3 linked regions of the Homo sapiens genome follow. The protein of the gene in region 2 purifies or fractionates together with the protein of the main gene of each other region. This does not show direct contact. Each region holds a gene or a part of one and is shown on either strand. Other genes may lie near its edges.

Region 1 (8,399 bases), on a different chromosome or scaffold from region 2:
GTCATGATGGATGGGGCAAGGTGGTGGGGACTAGGGGAGCCTGGTATACATGCGGCTTCATTGCCAATAAATTTCATGCACTTTAAAGTCCTGTGGCTTGTGACCTCTTAATAAAGTGTTAGAATCCATTTTGGCAAGTTGTGTACTGTGTGCTTTGGGGCTGGAAGGATCCAGGGATGGGGTCCAGGAGCAGGTTGGGCCGAAGCATCAGCATTCTGATCCCCACTTACCCACTGAGATCTGGGAAAGGGGGAGATGGGGGTTCTGGCAAGAGCCAGTCAGTCAAGTCCCTGGAAGGTGATGCAAGGATTCTGAGAGCTCCTTCTAGAAATTCCTGAGCCCTCAGATTAGTTCCCTTAAAATCATCCCACTTATCCCCTAACCACGACGCCAGCTACCACACACAGACTGGGGCTCTGCCACTCTGCTTTATTGGAACGGCTCCGCGTCTGAGAGCACAGCAGGCTCAACCCTGCTTCAGAGTGGAGGCCGGACCAGGCTGGTGGGTGACCAGCAGGACTCACGACACTTCCAACACAGGAAAGGCAAACTACAGACTGTGGGCACAGCACAGCACAGGACAGCACAGCCAATTGAGCTTTTCTTTTATATATAAACAAATAATTTAAAAATTCGAATAATATATAGAGTTTCTCTAGAGAGACACTTTGCAACAAAAAATATATATAAAGAATATGACCTCCTGGGTAAATGAAGCAGCATCTCTGAGCGGAGGAAAGAGGGTTCCTCATGCACTGGAGGGGGCGAAGCCTTTGGGCAGGCACAAAGGCCATTGCATATCTTGGAAAAGGTTGGAGGAGTAGAGGGCTGGCTAGTCAGGGTATCTGCATTATTTTCTCTACGTTGCAGGTTTTTTATGGCTTTGGCTAAAGCAAGTGAAGCAGCGGAGGTACTAAGGTGCTAAACTGAGGCCTCTTGGTCTCTGTGTACAAAACAAAAGGAGGGGGGCAGGGGACAGCCATCAAGCCCTCTTGAGCCTCCAGCTGAGTGGAAGCAAATGGAAGATCTTCAGGGCAGGGGGGAGGCTGGGGGATAGGGTTTAGCAGCCTCCTCCCCCCATACCCTCTGCAGCCCTGCACTCCCACACATCTGTCCCTGCTGATAGTGTCTATTGGAAGGGAGGCAGTTAATCTCCCCTACACTCTGTTGTTAATCCCTGACAGCAGCTGGAACAGAGATGGCAGAAAGGACCTATGTCAACCCCATGAGGCTTCTCCTTTGGGGCAGATAAACAGCCAGGAGCCTGGGGAAACAGGGATGAGAAGGGCATTGGTTTAGGCAGTGAGGCTCGGCCACTCCCTTGGGTCCCATCTGTAGCTCTGCCCACCAAACTTGATGGGGGGGGGATGGGGGAATATCCTCTGGATGAGCAGAGCCAGCTAAGAGGAGCCAAATGTCCCTGATAGGATGGGGGAGAGGCAGGACTGGGGGAATGTCAGGAGCTGGAATTGGTCCCAGAAGCCCTTCTGACTCATTCAGACCTGGACTCCTCCAGGATCTGGGGTAGGTTCTGATCCCGGGGGCCAGGGGCTGGGGCTGGAGTTGGGGCTGGGGCTGGGGCTGAGGCTGGAGCTTGGTTGGGAGCTGCTGTAGGGGTGGGGACCTGGGCAGGGCCTGAAGTGGGTAGGGGAGGTTTGCTGCCAGGATGGTACTCGTGGGCAGCCTTGGGCTCATTGGTATGGTAGGAGCCCTTATAGCGATGATTTTGCAGATAGAAGAGCACCAACATTCCCACCAGCCCCAGCAGCAGAAAGGCCACCAAAACTGAAAAGAAGAAAAGGGACAATTCAGATCTTTGGGATCTCACCTGTATACACACACACACACACACACACACACACACACACGCACTCTTTGAGATTTCACCTGTATACATACACACACTTTGGGATTTCACCTGCACACACACACACACACACACACACACACACACACATTTACTTTTGGCCAAAAGCATAATGTATGACCCTCAGTTAGCTGTTCGACCACACTAAACTCATCTCAAGTGTCTGGCAGGTTTGAATTCCTGGCTTACCCCCTGCCACCTTCTGTTTCTAATATTCTCTTTCCACATCCCTGGTAGTTACCCCAATTTCTTATCTCTCTAGGTGTTACTGTATCCCCATTTTCCCATCCCTTAGCTATAGTCTCATTTTAATATTTTATTTAAAAATCTGTAGCATCCTCAAACATCTAAAAATCTCTGCCCAGTTATATGTCACCTTCAGCATAGCCTGTCTCATCCTCAAACATCTAAAAATCTCTGCCCAGTTATATGGCACCTTCAGCATAGCCTGTCTCATCATCCTTTGTGCCATTGTGCATCTAGTGCCTTTGCCATCCTGCAGCCTTGGGGATCAGGGGCAGGGAAAGGATGCTGACAGTCAGAGGGTAGTCTTGGGAGGTCAGCTTAGTGATCAGTGCTACTCACAGCCTAAAAGTATGGCAACCCATCCTTCATCATGGTAGTAGGGGAAGTCTGGAGAGGAGAAAGCACCAGTTAGGAGATGCCTCCTCCATGTTAAGAATCATTCCCTTCCGTGTCATCCCTCCCTTCTGTCCTCTGTGTCCTGGGAATGTACCTGGGGGCAGATACCAGGGATCAAGCTCAGGTGGCACCTCTGAAACAAGACGTGGCATAGCTCCGCAATTAGATTCGGACAGTTCTCCCTGAACTCGAAGGGCCTCAGCTAGCTCAGCAGTCATGGGTCGAGGGGTTCGGAAGTGGGTCTTGAGGGGAGCCACGTTGTTGAATCGAACACCAGACAGGCAGCCTGAGAAACCTGGGGTGTTGTAGCGCTGGATCTCCGGGTCAATGACTCCTGTCTCTGAGAGAGAGGCAGGCCCAGAAAGAGGGACTTGGACCCAAAGGCCCTGCCACTCTCACTGTCCACAGGTTTCCCACTCATCCTTCCCACTGCCCTCAGCCATTCCCAGGGCCTTCACTTTCCTTGAGGATCCAGGAACATATGCCACAGCTCCTTGCCTAAAACGCGTCCGCACCCGCAGCTTACCCATCACACGCCCTAAATACAAGGCCTTGGGTGAGTCCAACTGGCTGTCCACCAACAGCGAGAACTTCTGCTCTGTCAGTGGGAAGTAGTCCACCTGAGGTGGGGAGGGGGAGGGGGAGGGCGATGAGGGAGCGGGGACCAGAAGCAGATGCCTGTGGGCTGGACTGGAACTGTGTGGACCCTGGGAATATACTTGGGGGCAGATACTGGAGATCTCTCATTCTGTCCAAACTGGCGGTGCCAGCTGGGTGAGTCCTAGCTCAATCTGAAGTGGGCAACCCCTGGGCCTAGATGTAGGATTTGGTATATATATTTTTATTATTATTATTTTATTTTATTTATTAAATATTTTTCTTTGTGAAGATGAGGTCTTGCTATGTTGCTCAGGTTGGTCTCAAACTCCTGGCCTCAAGCAGTCCTCCCACTTCAGCCTCCCAAAGTGTTGGGATTACAGGTGTGAGCCGCTGCACCTGGCCTATATATTTTTTAAAACCCTGGTTTTAAGCCCCATCTTTGCAGCTTACCAGCGGTTTGACTTTGGGTAAACCACTTTATTTTTTTGAGATGGAGTCTCACTCTGTCGCCTAGGCCTGGAGTGCAGTGGCACGATCTCAGCTCACTGCAACCTCCACCTCCCAGGTTCAAGCAATTTTCCTGCCTCACCCTCCTGAGTAGCTGAAACCGCTTTACTTTCTGAGGCTCTTTACTGATTTGTAAAACACTTAAATAAGAATGCCTATTGTCTGGCTGGGCGCGGTGGCTCACGCTTATAATCCCAGCACTTTGGGAGGCTGAGGTAGGCGGATCATCTGAGGTCGGGTGTTCGAGACCAGCCTGACCAACATGGAGAACTCCTGTCTCTACTAAAAATACAAAATTAGCTGGGCGTTGTGGCGCATGCCTGTAATCTCAGCTGCTCGGGAGGCTGAGGCAGAAGAATTGCTTGAACCCGGGAGGCAGAGGTTGCAGTGAGCTGAGATCACACCATTGCACTCCAGCCTGGGCAACAAGAGCAAAATTCCATCTCAAAAAAAAAAAAAAAATGCCTATTGTCCCCTTGGAGCTATTGTGAGGGTTACATGAGGTGACACACGTGAAAATCCTCTATACATTCAAATGTGATCTACAAATATTAAGTATTTGATGTTTTCCTGGATGCCACAACGGAGACCATGAGGTTATGATCTGAACTGGCTCACCTCCCTCTATGCATACCTGGATGAAGAGGTTCCGGTAAACACGGGTGATATTGATGCTATGGGGCTGGCCATCGGTCACTGGTCGAGTGGTTAGCTGGTACACGTAGGGACTGGTGCCCAGCTGATATCGCAGCTGAAGGGTCCCTGTGGGGTGGGGAGAAGAAATTTGGGGTCTCAGGCCCCATGACTCCTATCTTCTAACAGCACGTGGGTCCTTGTATTTGTGAATCAATAGGAGAATTAGGGGCACCGGGGTGAAGCTGGAGTGGGGTGAGAGAGCCCGGGAGAGCTTACCATCATCCTTGATGAGCACAGCCATGTAGTCACGAACAAAGGAACTGACGTAGAGCAGGACAGCAGGGGCGGAGCTGGTGCTGAAGCTGAAGGAGACCTCCTCTCCCGTAACGTTGTAGACAGGCCCACGGTAACCGGGCACAGGCCGACCAGGCCGGGGGTAGTCGGGCAGGCGGTACCCGGGGCCATGGTAGCCAGGCACATAGCCCGGAGTATCATAGCCCGGGATGTAGCCAGGCTCATAGCCTGGCACTGGCCGGCTCAGCATGTGGGAGAACTCCCTGGCTGCAGAGCGCAGCGCTGACTGTAGGTTATAGCGCATCCAGGTGCCCGGCTCAAAGAAACCACCAATATCTGCAGGTAGAAGCAGGGAGGTTAGGGCCCCCACACTGCTCACTCCCCAATTCAGAGGTTTTATGTCATCCATACACACATCCTGAGACTTACTTCAGTTTCTGCCACCCTCACAACCCTCCATTTACTTTTAGGTCCCCTTGAGCCCCTCTGTCACAGAACAGAATCTTACAGCCATGGGAAACTGGAGATCATCTGATCCAACCCCTGCATTTTACAAATGGGGAAACAGGCTCAGAGATGAGTAGTGACTTGCTTAAAGACACGCAGTAAGGCCAGGCACAGTGGCTCACACCTGTAATCCCAGCACTTTGGGAGGCCAAGGCAGGCAGATCATCTTGAGGTCAGGAGTTCGAGAACAGCCTGGCCAACATGGCAAAACCCCATCTCTACTAAAAATACAAAACTTAGCTAGGTGTGGTAGTGCATGCCTGTAATCCCAGCTACTATAGGAAAGCCAAGGCAGGAGAATTGCTTGAGCCCAGGGGGCAGAGGTTGCAGTGAGCCAAGATCATGCCACTGCACTCCAGCCTGGGTGATGGGGATATCCTGACCCCATGTAGTATATGTGCCACTACTCACACTTCCAAACCACCACCAGAAATCTGTTGGTCCCTAAGTCTTGTATCTCCCTAGTCCCCCACACTCCTCCCACCAGTAACCCACCTGCTCATATATCCTCCCTATAGGCCAGCCTTAGGGAGGATGCAGTCTTGGCATGTGTGTAGGATCTTGCTATGGGGAATGTCAAGGCTCACCTTAACCAAGAACTGGGTCATTGACATGTTTTAGGAATGCAGCAATCATCAAATACATTGACAAGGGAGTTCGCCTGTGTTACCATGGTGATGGTGGGAAGATGGAGAAGCGATTTGCTTTTTTTTTTTTTGTAGACACAGTCCTTGCTGTGCCCCCCAGGCTGGAGTGCAGTGGCACGATCATAGCTCACTGCAGCCTTGACCTCCTAGGTGCAAGTGATCCTCCCACCTCAGCCTCCCGAGTAGCTAGGCCTAAGTGTGCACCACCATGCCCAGCTAATTAAAAAATTTTGCCAGGCGCTGTGGCTCACGTCTGTAATCCCAGCACTTTGGGAGGCCAAGGTGGGTGGATCACCTGCGGTCAGAAGTTCGTGACCAGCCTGGCAAGCGTGGTGAAACCCCATCTCTACTAAAAATACAAAAATTAGCCGGGTGTGGTGGCACACACTTGTAATCCCAGCTACTTGGAAGGCTGAGGCAGGAGAATCGCTTCAGCCCGGGAGGTGGAGGTTGCAGTGAGCCGAGATCGAGTCATTACACTCCAGCCTGGGCAACAAGAGTGAAACTCAGTCTCAAAAAAAAAAAAGAAAAAAGAAATTATTTTGGCCAGACGCGGTGGCTCACGCCTGTAATCCCAGCACTTTGGGAGTCTGAGGCAGGCAGATCACAAGGTCAAGAGTTCGAGACCAGCCTGGCCAATGTGGTGAAACCCCATCTCCACTAAAAATACAAAAATTAGCCAGGCATGGTGGTGCACATCTGTAGTCCTAGCTACTCGGGAGGCTGAGGCAAAAGAATCGCTTGAACCAGGCGGAGGTTGCAGTGAGCCGAGATCGTGCCACTGTACTCTAGCCTGGGTGACAGAGCGAGATTCCATCTCATAAAAAAAAAAAGAATTTTTTTTGTAGAGACAGGGTCTTGCCATGTTGCCCAGGCTGGTCTCGAACTCCTAGCCTCAAGCAATCCTCCCACCTTGGGCTCCCAAAGCATACTTGGTGATTTTGAGATATTTTTGCACCAGCTATCTGTACCATCCCTTCCTTGTCCATGCCTTTGGAGTCACCCATGATCTTCAACTGCCTAACTCCCCAAACTCAGAGCTCAGGAATCCAGGGACAACTCTAATTTTCCATGATATGGGCTTTACATGCTATTTCCTTCCCTGCCCTCCCTACATCCCATTACACCCTATGGCTCCCTGTTGCCCCATAACCAGCAGCACTTACCGTGGTTGCAGTATGGCCCATCAAAAGCCGTGAGGTCACAGTCACACGTGTAGTAGCTATAGCGCTCCACGCAGCGGCCTCCATGGAAACAGGGGAGCCGAGGGTGGGCACAGTGGCCTGTGCAGTTGGGTGAGGTACCCTCAGAGGCATTGGCACGGCCCTCCAGGTTCAGAGTCACTCCGTTCAGACGCATGGCCCTCAAGCAACCCACAAAGGGGCGTCTCTTAAGCTCTGCAGATCCTGGGAAGGGTAGGCAACAGGTCAAGAAATGGAGGCAGGGCCAGGCGCGGTGGCTCACGCCTGTAATCCCAGCACTTTGGGAGGCCGAGGCGGGCGAATCACGAGCTCAGGAGATCGAGACCATCCTGGCTAACATGATGAAACCCCGTCTCTACTAAAAAATACAAAAAAAATTAGCTGGGCACGGTGGCGGGCGCCTGTAGTCCCAGCTACTCGGGAGGCTGAGGCAGGAGAACTGCTTGAACCCAGGAGGCGGAGCTTGCAGTGGGCCGAGATCGTGCCACTGCACTCCAGCCTGGGTGACAGAGCGAGACTCCGTCTCAAAAAAAAAAAAAAAAGAAAAGAAATGGAGGCAGAGCCAGAGACAGGATGAAGTATTGTAGTTGGAAAGGGAGCCAAGAGGGCTGGAAGAATAGAATAGGATACAAAGGCCTGGAGGGACAAGTGAGACACTGGCTTGCTCTGAAGCAGAGGGGACTGGCACCTAAGACAGGAGGCTCCTGGAAACAAGGCGAGTGGCCTTGGAGGATGGGGAGGTAAAGGAGGCTTCAGACTTGCCTCTGGGTTGCTGCTTACCCACATAGAGGGGCTGGTCATACTCCATCCAGATGTAGGTCTGCAGTGGCATAGGCCGCAGAACCCAGGGCCGGTGATCCACTCGGAGCCGGGCCTGCTTCACGTTGATTTCAGCCCGGACCAGGTGCCACTCGTCATCATTGAACTCAAAGTCGTCTGAGTGTACTGTGAGGTTCTCATCCCCATTCCCCACATCAAAGGCGAAGACCACATCCCGGGATGCTGGACAGTGTGATGCAGGGTAGGGGAGAAAAGGACTCAGACCTACAAGACCCTTCATAGATCCTTGCCCAATATAACCTCTTTCCCTCACCTCTTTGGAGCTTCTTGAATATCCCTCCAATTTGTCTGTAGCTTGCATTGAAACTTACCAGCTGCTTAAAAACCTCATACCCTTTGTCTCTCCCCACATCACAGATCCCTGAAGCCAGCTTCCCAGCCTCACTTCCCAGGCTAGAAGCATGGCTAATCAGCGGTGAGAGGGACTCGAAGGTCCAGCTTCCTTATGGCACAAGGAAGGGGCTTAAGGCCAAGAGAGGCCAAGTGAATGCCTAGGGTCACCCAGCCAGCCGTCAAGACCGAGTGAGGGCTAGAACATAGGGTATCTCAACCCTTCCCATGCTGCCTGTCAAAAGGGCATCTGCCCTTGGCTCCAACCCCAGCCTACCCCTGTCTCCCCAGACAGCACTTTCATCTACCCCGAGGCCCTCCCACAGT
Region 2 (4,489 bases):
GAGAAAGGGTGTTTCTGGTTTTGCCTTAGCAATGCATCGGTCTCTGAGGTGACACTCTGGAGTGGTTGAAGGGCCACAAGGTGCAGGGTTAATACTCTTGCCAGTTTTGAAATATAGATGCTATGGTTCAGATTGTTTTTAATAGAAAACTAAAGGGGCAGGGGAAGTGAAAGGAAAGATGGAGGTTTTGTGCGGCTCGATGGGGCATTTGGAACTTCTTTTTAAAGTCATCTCATGGTCTCCAGTTTTCAGTTGGAACTCTGGTGTTTAACACTTAAGGGAGACAAAGGCTGTGTCCATTTGGCAAAACTTCCTTGGCCACGAGACTCTAGGTGATGTGTGAAGCTGGGCAGTCTGTGGTGTGGAGAGCAGCCATCTGTCTGGCCATTCAGAGGATTCTAAAGACATGGCTGGATGCGCTGCTGACCAACATCAGCACTTAAATAAATGCAAATGCAACATTTCTCCCTCTGGGCCTTGAAAATCCTTGCCCTTATCATTTGGGGTGAAGGAGACATTTCTGTCCTTGGCTTCCCACAGCCCCAACGCAGTCTGTGTATGATTCCTGGGATCCAACGAGCCCTCCTATTTTCACAGTGTTCTGATTGCTCTCACAGCCCAGGCCCATCGTCTGTTCTCTGAATGCAGCCCTGTTCTCAACAACAGGGAGGTCATGGAACCCCTCTGTGGAACCCACAAGGGGAGAAATGGGTGATAAAGAATCCAGTTCCTCAAAACCTTCCCTGGCAGGCTGGGTCCCTCTCCTGCTGGGTGGTGCTTTCTCTTGCACACCACTCCCACCACGGGGGGAGAGCCAGCAACCCAACCAGACAGCTCAGGTTGTGCATCTGATGGAAACCACTGGGCTCAAACACGTGCTTTATTCTCCTGTTTATTTTTGCTGTTACTTTGAAGCATGGAAATTCTTGTTTGGGGGATCTTGGGGCTACAGTAGTGGGTAAACAAATGCCCACCGGCCAAGAGGCCATTAACAAATCGTCCTTGTCCTGAGGGGCCCCAGCTTGCTCGGGCGTGGCACAGTGGGGAATCCAAGGGTCACAGTATGGGGAGAGGTGCACCCTGCCACCTGCTAACTTCTCGCTAGACACAGTGTTTCTGCCCAGGTGACCTGTTCAGCAGCAGAACAAGCCAGGGCCATGGGGACGGGGGAAGTTTTCACTTGGAGATGGACACCAAGACAATGAAGATTTGTTGTCCAAATAGGTCAATAATTCTGGGAGACTCTTGGAAAAAACTGAATATATTCAGGACCAACTCTCTCCCTCCCCTCATCCCACATCTCAAAGCAGACAATGTAAAGAGAGAACATCTCACACACCCAGCTCGCCATGCCTACTCATTCCTGAATTTCAGGTGCCATCACTGCTCTTTCTTTCTTCTTTGTCATTTGAGAAAGGATGCAGGAGGACAATTCCCACAGATAATCTGAGGAATGCAGAAAAACCAGGGCAGGACAGTTATCGACAATGCATTAGAACTTGGTGAGCATCCTCTGTAGAGGGACTCCACCCCTGCTCAACAGCTTGGCTTCCAGGCAAGACCAACCACATCTGGTCTCTGCCTTCGGTGGCCCACACACCTAAGCGTCATCGTCATTGCCATAGCATCATGATGCAACACATCTACGTGTAGCACTACGACGTTATGTTTGGGTAATGTGGGGATGAACTGCATGAGGCTCTGATTAAGGATGTGGGGAAGTGGGCTGCGGTCACTGTCGGCCTTGCAAGGCCACCTGGAGGCCTGTCTGTTAGCCAGTGGTGGAGGAGCAAGGCTTCAGGAAGGGCCAGCCACATGCCATCTTCCCTGCGATCAGGCAAAAAAGTGGAATTAAAAAGTCAAACCTTTATATGCATGTGTTATGTCCATTTTGCAGGATGAACTGAGTTTAAAAGAATTTTTTTTTCTCTTCAAGTTGCTTTGTCTTTTCCATCCTCATCACAAGCCCTTGTTTGAGTGTCTTATCCCTGAGCAATCTTTCGATGGATGGAGATGATCATTAGGTACTTTTGTTTCAACCTTTATTCCTGTAAATATTTCTGTGAAAACTAGGAGAACAGAGATGAGATTTGACAAAAAAAAATTGAATTAAAAATAACACAGTCTTTTTAAAACTAACATAGGAAAGCCTTTCCTATTATTTCTCTTCTTAGCTTCTCCATTGTCTAAATCAGGAAAACAGGAAAACACAGCTTTCTAGCAGCTGCAAAATGGTTTAATGCCCCCTACATATTTCCATCACCTTGAACAATAGCTTTAGCTTGGGAATCTGAGATATGATCCCAGAAAACATCTGTCTCTACTTCGGCTGCAAAACCCATGGTTTAAATCTATATGGTTTGTGCATTTTCTCAACTAAAAATAGAGATGATAATCCGAATTCTCCATATATTCACTAATCAAAGACACTATTTTCATACTAGATTCCTGAGACAAATACTCACTGAAGGGCTTGTTTAAAAATAAATTGTGTTTTGGTCTGTTCTTGTAGATAATGCCCTTCTATTTTAGGTAGAAGCTCTGGAATCCCTTTATTGTGCTGTTGCTCTTATCTGCAAGGTGGCAAGCAGTTCTTTTCAGCAGATTTTGCCCACTATTCCTCTGAGCTGAAGTTCTTTGCATAGATTTGGCTTAAGCTTGAATTAGATCCCTGCAAAGGCTTGCTCTGTGATGTCAGATGTAATTGTAAATGTCAGTAATCACTTCATGAATGCTAAATGAGAATGTAAGTATTTTTAAATGTGTGTATTTCAAATTTGTTTGACTAATTCTGGAATTACAAGATTTCTATGCAGGATTTACCTTCATCCTGTGCATGTTTCCCAAACTGTGAGGAGGGAAGGCTCAGAGATCGAGCTTCTCCTCTGAGTTCTAACAAAATGGTGCTTTGAGGGTCAGCCTTTAGGAAGGTGCAGCTTTGTTGTCCTTTGAGCTTTCTGTTATGTGCCTATCCTAATAAACTCTTAAACACATTGATTGTGAACTTGTTTTAATATATTTCACGACAACTCGAAATACCTGGCAGAACTTGCTTTCAAGGTCATTACATTTATCCATCTCCCCTTTCAAAGAGTTGCTAAAAAGAAGGTACCTTGTGGCTGAGTTTCTGCACCTGCACCTGCTGGAGGCGACAGGGGGCGCTGGGCTCTGCCTTCCTTCATTACCTCAGCAAATGTGTACCCTGCCCCTCAGCGTGCTGCCCTTGGGGACATGGAATACAGAGGGCTGGGCTGCACTGCGCCCAGTGTCCATGGCAGCTGAGTCCACTCATCCATGGCCCCCTCATCACTCTTTAATTCTCTGCATCTTGTAAATTACATGGGTGATGCCTGGCGCAGAATTAAACATGTCCAATGGATGCGATGTGAAAACACTGTTCTATAATTATCATTGGAGCATTTATCACTACTTTGTCAGCAAAGCCCTTTCAGTTTATTTAACTAATTGGACAGGCAGATCAGATCGCTGGTTGTTTGGCTGCACAAATCTCATGGTGATTCCAAGTCAGGAACAGCAGATGGTGGTCAATTCTGAGTCAGCCTGCTTTTAAGATTGTGCAAAAGGCTGTGGCAAAGGCACAGGACTTAAGAAGAACAAAGGGTTCTGCTCTGTTATGCTAATGGTACAGGACACTTGCAATAAATATCCATTATTTAGGGTTAAATGCAGCTGATCCTGTTAGAAGTCTATTCATTAACAACATACACTTGGAAATTATTCCTCGATATGAACAACCATGGCTGTTCCCCCAACACACACACCCACACACATAAACACACACATGCATGACACAGAGATATGCATCCACAAACACACACAACACACACCCACAAGACACACACCCACAAGCACACACAGTTCTAACATCCTTCTGTGTCGTACTGGAACACCTGAGGCCAGTGTTTCTCAATTTAGGAAAAGCCTATGAAAGAAAACACCAACTTGTGATGGTTACATTTTTTGGTGACTTTTGCTATCTCACTAAAATTTCTTAAATGCTAGGTAAATCATTCGCAAACAAATAATTTGCCAAGAAAAATTAATTTGCACACATATCTATTGCACAATGCAGAGTACATTTGTGTTGCTATCATCAGACAAAATGCAGATTACAATGAGAGACTCAGACATGTACTATGTACCTTCTGTGGGATTGAACATGCATTGAGTGAGCCTATCAAGTTCTCAGCTGACTCTTGTGTATATTCAGCAAGAGGAGATACAGAGAGCAGAGATGATAAACTTGAAAACCAGAGAAGTCGGAGTCAGCCTTTCCCTGAATTATATTTGACATTACAGGTGCTTAGAAACAGAATGACTAATGGGTTTACCCTTCAGATCCTCTGAATGCCTCCTAACTCTCCCTTTTCAGAGGAAATTATGAACAGCTCAACAGTGAAAAAGTGAAGAAAGAGGCAGAGAGAGTAAAAGGTATAGATCAAGTGCAATCATTTTTCCGGAACTGTGA
Region 3 (6,319 bases), on a different chromosome or scaffold from region 2:
AATTCCAGTGATTTGAATAAAAGCATCTGGGATGAATTCATTAGTGATGAGGCAGATGAAAAGACTTATAATGATGCACTTTTTCGATACAATGGCACAGTGGGATTGTGGAGACGGTGTATCACCATACCCAAAAACATGCATTGGTATAGCCCACCAGAAAGGACAGGTATTTCTCTTATTTTAACTTCTGTCTTCTTCACCTGGTTAATAATAGACAAAACGACGTAATGATTGCCCAATTACATGTAAGCAGGTTTGTTGGTTCTCTCTCTCCTTAAAGAAATAAATCGTGTATCTTCTCTTTCTACTGCCTTCTCTCCCCAACTTCTTTGCATTACCATGGTACTCATCAATATTGGTTGGATGAGGAACTTTTCTTATCTTGGGAAAGCCTTAATGGCTTTTTTTTTTCTTATTTACTCACTCATTAAAATACTTTTCATTACTCTAACACATGTTATAAAGAAATAGTTGGAAAAGTACATCGAAAGACTTTTAAAAATATTTGGTAACTAGTAAAAGGACTACCATCGAAAATCAACTCAAAAAATTGTCCTTTTATGGGTTAGCTGTATTATAATACATATCTATCATTTGCCCCTGTGTCTTAGAGGATATAATTTGACCAGCTCTACATTTAATCTGTGTAATTATGAGACTGTTTTACAACAATCTTGATGCAGAGTTGGTAGGTTAAGAAATTTGTATTACAGAAGTTAAAAAAAAAAAACCAAAAACTAGATTTTTAGGTTTATTTTACAGGCATTCTTATTTAACACTTAAAGATTTTGATTTCCAGTTATTAAAATGGTAGCTTTAGAACTCTTTGTAAGGAACAACTTTACAGTTTATTTATGACTACTTCTGTTGGCCCCTTAGTGGGGAAGCATTGTATTCAAATCATAGCAGAACAGGCTTGAGTTATGATATATCAAAAGGATGATAATATGTCACTGTATCTGGAAAAAAAGATAATTTGGAAGGAAAGGAGAGAAAGTTGGTTAAAATTCATTGTAAAATGTTCAGTTTGACTTATGAGGTTACAGGAGCACTTGATATTGAAATTGGAGTTGGAATTGGAGTGTTACCATTTAGTCATTCATTAAACAAATAATTTATTGCATGTCTCCATGTTCCAGGGCCTCTTAGCTGGGAGAACATCAGGAAAGAACAAAATCCTTACTCCTGGGGAGCTAGCATTCTAATAAAGGATGACAGGCAGTGAACAGAATATAACAGTATAAACAGAATAAATAATTATTCAGTATGTTAAAAGATGACATGTGCTATGGCAAAATAGAACACAAAAGGGATTTGGAAATATGTGGGAAAAGGAATATTGGTGGCCATAGGTTATGATTTTCAATAGGATACTTAAAGTAGGTCTCATTGAGAAGACACCACTTGAGTAAAGAATGTAGTTAAAGACTAGACAAAAGAGTTGGCCATATGGGTAAATGGGGAGGAAGTCATTTAGGTTGGAAAGGACATCTACTGCAAAGGCTCTATGGCGGGAGCATGCCTGAAATATTCAAGGACCAGTAAGGAAGCCACTGGGCTGGAATGGAGGGAGAGACGGGAAGTTGGGTATGCTGTTAAAGACCTACTTTGGGAGTGGGACTGGGGCAAATCCTGGAGGACTCTAGGCAGAATGAGAACTTTGGTGTTGACTCCAGATACAGTGCTGAGCCCTGATCTGGTCACCCTGGCTGTTGTGAGAACAGAGGCAGCAGACAAAGGTGGAAACTAGAAGACTATGGTTAGGAGGTTATAGAAGTAATTCAGGTTAAGTGATGATTATGACTCACACCAGAATGGTAGCACTGAGCAGCAGCTGGATTCTGGACATAGTTTGAAGGAAGAATTCCTGGGATTTCCTGATGGAGTGTAAATGTACAAGAATTACTCTAAAGTTTCTGGTCTGAGGAACTGGAAGTGTGGATTTGGCATTCCCTGAGATGGGAATATGGTTGATAAAGCACGGTTGCATGAGAAGATCAACATTCCTATTTATTTCAGTCTTTGTTCCCTCCCCTTCTTCCTAGGCTTTCTACATAGCTATTCTGCCATTCATTTTACTGCTTCCACTTTATTTTTCTTCCTTGTGCCTATGTCTTCAGCCTGCCACTGAGAACCAGTGGCATCCATTGGACATCTATGAAACCTGTGTGTCAGTCAGGGCCAGAGAAGTTGCTGACCCCTCTGGAAACATCCTTTACTGTTTTACTTCAGAGAATAATTACTGAAAGAGATTTTTGTTAAATGTTTATAATTAAAACAACAGGCAATTGTTCTTGTTCCAGAGTCATTTGATGTGGTCACAAAATGTGTGAGTTTCACACTAACTGAGCAGTTCATGGAGAAATTTGTTGATCCCGGAAACCACAATAGCGGGATTGATCTCCTTAGGACCTGTGAGTACTTTGATTTCACCAGGACAGTTGGGGGAACAAAGATAATTTTATTTGTCTCTTTTTGGACTATGTTTTTGGAATAAGATGAGTTAGTAGATTGTGCCAACGTGAAATAAAATCTCTAACAGTATCCAGTGAACTCTATTCTGTTGATATTTTAGAAGGTAGATACATGCTTACCAAATTTCAAATGATTTGAAGTTGACAGGGCCAACTACTTCATTGGATGATGGGATCTAGACCTTCAAAAGATGTTATTAATGGGCCCATTTAGTAAAAGGAAATTTAGTTGAGATAACTTATACATTCCTATATTTGAATTAAACACTTTCCACTGCTTGAGTTCAGGTAAGTATATGTGAAAAAAGTTTACTGCAAGCTCTAAATGAGTCAGTGAGTTGTCAGGCCTGTCAAAAGTGTTTATCCAGTCTTAGGTGATAGTAACAAAAGGGTAGATGTCAAAAAAGATGAAAGTATTTATTAGGAACAACCTATTCCCTGATGGTCAGGCAGCCCATGAAATACTGTCTTCAGATTTGAGCCTCAGTTTTCAGGGCTATAGGGACTTGCCCAGAAGAATGACCATGTTGTAAGAGAAAAGGTTGAATAAGAGGTAGGTATTCAGTTTTATAAAGAGAATGTGTAGCAAGCAGTTTATTACTAGGAGAGTTTGAAAGAAAGTAAGTTAGAAAAACACATAAGAAGTTCCAGAAAGCAAAACCAGCACCAAAAGGTGTAAAGTTTAGTCAAGATTGATATGAATGCATTTCTAATAATGAATATTATTGGAAAATGGAATGGCATGTTTTGTGAGGTCATCAGGTTTTCTTCCCATGTTGATGAGAGATTTATGATAATTAAAACTACCTTTAGATTCTCTGCTTTGTGCTTTATATATATTCTTCAACAGCCCTATAAGACAGGTCATTTATAATTACCATTAATTTACTTGTTGTTACTGCCTTTAGATCATATAAAGACCTAGATATTGTTGGTAGGTAGAGTCAGACTGATTTTTGTATCAAATCCTGGCTCTACCACTTACTGTGTTATTTTTACAAGTTATTTATGACTCTTGCCTCAGTTTCCTTAATTACAAAATGGAATTAATAATAATACAGCTGTAGCTATGGGGGATTGGATTCAGGACCCCCTGCTAATTCCAAGGTTGCTAAAGTACCTTATATAAAATGGCATAATATTAGCATATAACCTACACAATCCTCCTGTATACTTTAAATCATCTTTAGATTGCTTATAATACCCAATACAATATAAATGCTATGTAAATAGTTGTTATACTATATATTTGTAAATTTGTATCATTTTTTTTTCTGAATATTTTTAACCCTTGGTTAGTTGAATCTGCGGATGTGAAACCTGCAGATATGGAGGGCTGACTGTACCTACTTTCTAGGGTTGTTGGGAGGATTAATACAGAAAATGTGTAGACAAACATAGCATGGAACATAGTGAACCCTCAGTAATTGCTACTACCTGTTAGTGTCCTTTTACTTTTATCAGGACAAGAGTAGCATCCTTTTGAATAATGTGCTTTAGAAAAGAGGCCTCAATGTTAAAATACTTTCACACTTTTTGAGAAAAGATCTAATTAGAATATGAAAGAAATTGCCATTGCGGGGAAAATGGTCTGAAATCACGGTAACATTTCTTTTCTCTCTTTTTAAAAATCAGATCTTTGGCGTTGCCAGTTCCTTTTACCTTTTGTGAGTTTAGGTTTGATGTGCTTTGGGGCTTTGATCGGACTTTGTGCTTGCATTTGCCGAAGCTTATATCCCACCATTGCCACGGGCATTCTCCATCTCCTTGCAGGTAGGTTTTGTCATCATACTTACCTTTTAGCTTCTTCCTGTCTCTTTAGGGACCAAAGAGTTATAAATCTGAAATGTTCACGTATTAACTGCCCTGTCACATTGCCTGAAAAGCTCTTTACTGTGCTTTTATCCAGCCATGTTTTGTTTTGTTTTCTAAATTTTCCCCCAAGGTCTGTGTACACTGGGCTCAGTAAGTTGTTATGTTGCTGGAATTGAACTACTCCACCAGAAACTAGAGCTCCCTGACAATGTATCCGGTGAATTTGGATGGTCCTTCTGCCTGGCTTGTGTCTCTGCTCCCTTACAGTTCATGGCTTCTGCTCTCTTCATCTGGGCTGCTCACACCAACCGGAAAGAGTACACCTTAATGAAGGCATATCGTGTGGCATGAGCAAGAAACTGCCTGCTTTACAATTGCCATTTTTATTTTTTTAAAATAATACTGATATTTTCCCCACCTCTCAATTGTTTTTAATTTTTATTTGTGGATATACCATTTTATTATGAAAATCTATTTTATTTATACACATTCACCACTAAATACACACTTAATACCACTAAAATTTATGTGGTTTACTTTAAGCGATGCCATCTTTCAAATAAACTAATCTAGGTCTAGACAGAAAGAAATGGATAGAGACTTGACACAAATTTATGAAAGAAAATTGGGAGTAGGAATGTGACCGAAAACAAGTTGTGCTAATGTCTGTTAGACTTTTCAGTAAAACTAAAGTAACTGTATCTGTTCAACTAAAAACTCTATATTAGTTTCTTTGGGAAACCTCTCATCGTCAAAACTTTATGTTCACTTTGCTGTTGTAGATAGCCAGTCAACCAGCAGTATTAGTGCTGTTTTCAAAGATTTAAGCTCTATAAAATTGGGAAATTATCTAAGATCATTTTCCCTAAGCATTGACACATAGCTTCATCTGAGGTGAGATATGGCAGCTGTTTGTATCTGCACTGTGTCTGTCTACAAAAAGTGAAAAATACAGTGTTTACTTGAAATTTTAACTTTGTAACTGCAAGAATTCCAGTTCAGCCGGGCGAGGATTAGTATTATTTTTAACTCTCCGTAAGATTTTCAGTACCACCAAATTGTTTTGGATTTTTTTTCTTTCCTCTTCACATACCAGGGTTATTAAAAGTGTGCTTTCTTTTTACATTATATTACAGTTACAAGGTAAAATTCCTCAACTGCTATTTATTTATTCCAGCCCAGTACTATAAAGAACGTTTCACCATAATGACCCTCCAGAGCTGGGAAACCTACCACAAGATCTAAAGTTCTGGCTGTCCATTAACCTCCAACTATGGTCTTTATTTCTTGTGGTAATATGATGTGCCTTTCCTTGCCTAAATCCCTTCCTGGTGTGTATCAACATTATTTAATGTCTTCTAATTCAGTCATTTTTTTATAAGTATGTCTATAAACATTGAACTTTAAAAAACTTATTTATTTATTCCACTACTGTAGCAATTGACAGATTAAAAAAATGTAACTTCATAATTTCTTACCATAACCTCAATGTCTTTTTTAAAAAATAAAATTAAAAATGAAAAGAGACTCAATTGTATATAGAGTGTCTGAATTGATTTAAATCTCAACACTTTAGGATAAAGAAGTGGAGGCAATCTCTGTGGTTGTCTGTGCAAAGTGCATCTTGCTGTACAGGGCTGTCGTTACATCCTGTGTTTGGGTCTCTTGTTTGATCTTCTGGGAAATGTAGGAACCCCTTCCCCCTATTAGAAATAAGAAAATCTTTATCTTTTATTTTTCAGAATTTTAAACCATGTTCTCAAAAGTAGTTTTGTTATCTCTACATGTCATACTTAATGTGGCTAGTTTTCAGTAAAGTCATTTAGTGGCTGTGGATGTTTGTGTTCTATAGTAAATAACCAAGTCAGCTTCTGACTTAGAACAAAGTCAGCATTACTCTGTAGCCAATTATTGCCTGTGAAATGACTGGTTACTCAGGTTTCTATCTAATCTTAATTCTTGAAGATTCATTACCCTTCAGCGCCTTCTGTGGAAGGTGGAAAAGAGAAAAGCTAAATGAACAAACA

The links.
Region 1: the proteins of CD93 (region 2) and CNTNAP1 purify together in Homo sapiens (affinity purification with mass spectrometry; 2 studies listed by BioGRID and IntAct, with this or other methods). This does not show direct contact.
Region 3: the proteins of CD93 (region 2) and CLDND1 purify together in Homo sapiens (affinity purification with mass spectrometry; 2 studies listed by BioGRID and IntAct, with this or other methods). This does not show direct contact.

Annotation. Positions count from the first base shown.
Region 1 is NC_000017.11:42,692,004-42,700,402, reverse strand, and holds the end of CNTNAP1 (contactin-associated protein 1 precursor), read right to left. Parts: intron 7,905-8,399; coding exon 7,683-7,904; intron 7,107-7,682; coding exon 6,867-7,106; intron 4,883-6,866; coding exon 4,529-4,882; intron 4,379-4,528; coding exon 4,251-4,378; intron 3,130-4,250; coding exon 3,036-3,129; intron 2,850-3,035; coding exon 2,604-2,849; intron 2,501-2,603; coding exon 2,453-2,500; intron 1,786-2,452; coding exon 1,493-1,785; 3' UTR 410-1,492; downstream 1-409. UniProt on the Homo sapiens protein: Required, with CNTNAP2, for radial and longitudinal organization of myelinated axons. Plays a role in the formation of functional distinct domains critical for saltatory conduction of nerve impulses in myelinated nerve fibers.
Region 2 is NC_000020.11:23,077,864-23,082,352, reverse strand, and holds the end of CD93 (complement component C1q receptor precursor), read left to right. Parts: 3' UTR 1-2,993; downstream 2,994-4,489. UniProt on the Homo sapiens protein: Cell surface receptor that plays a role in various physiological processes including inflammation, phagocytosis, and cell adhesion.
Region 3 is NC_000003.12:98,514,983-98,521,301, reverse strand, and holds the end of CLDND1 (claudin domain-containing protein 1), read left to right. Parts: coding exon 1-169; intron 170-2,306; coding exon 2,307-2,417; intron 2,418-4,112; coding exon 4,113-4,250; intron 4,251-4,422; coding exon 4,423-4,643; 3' UTR 4,644-5,819; downstream 5,820-6,319. UniProt on the Homo sapiens protein: Plays a role in negatively regulating the permeability of cells to small molecules.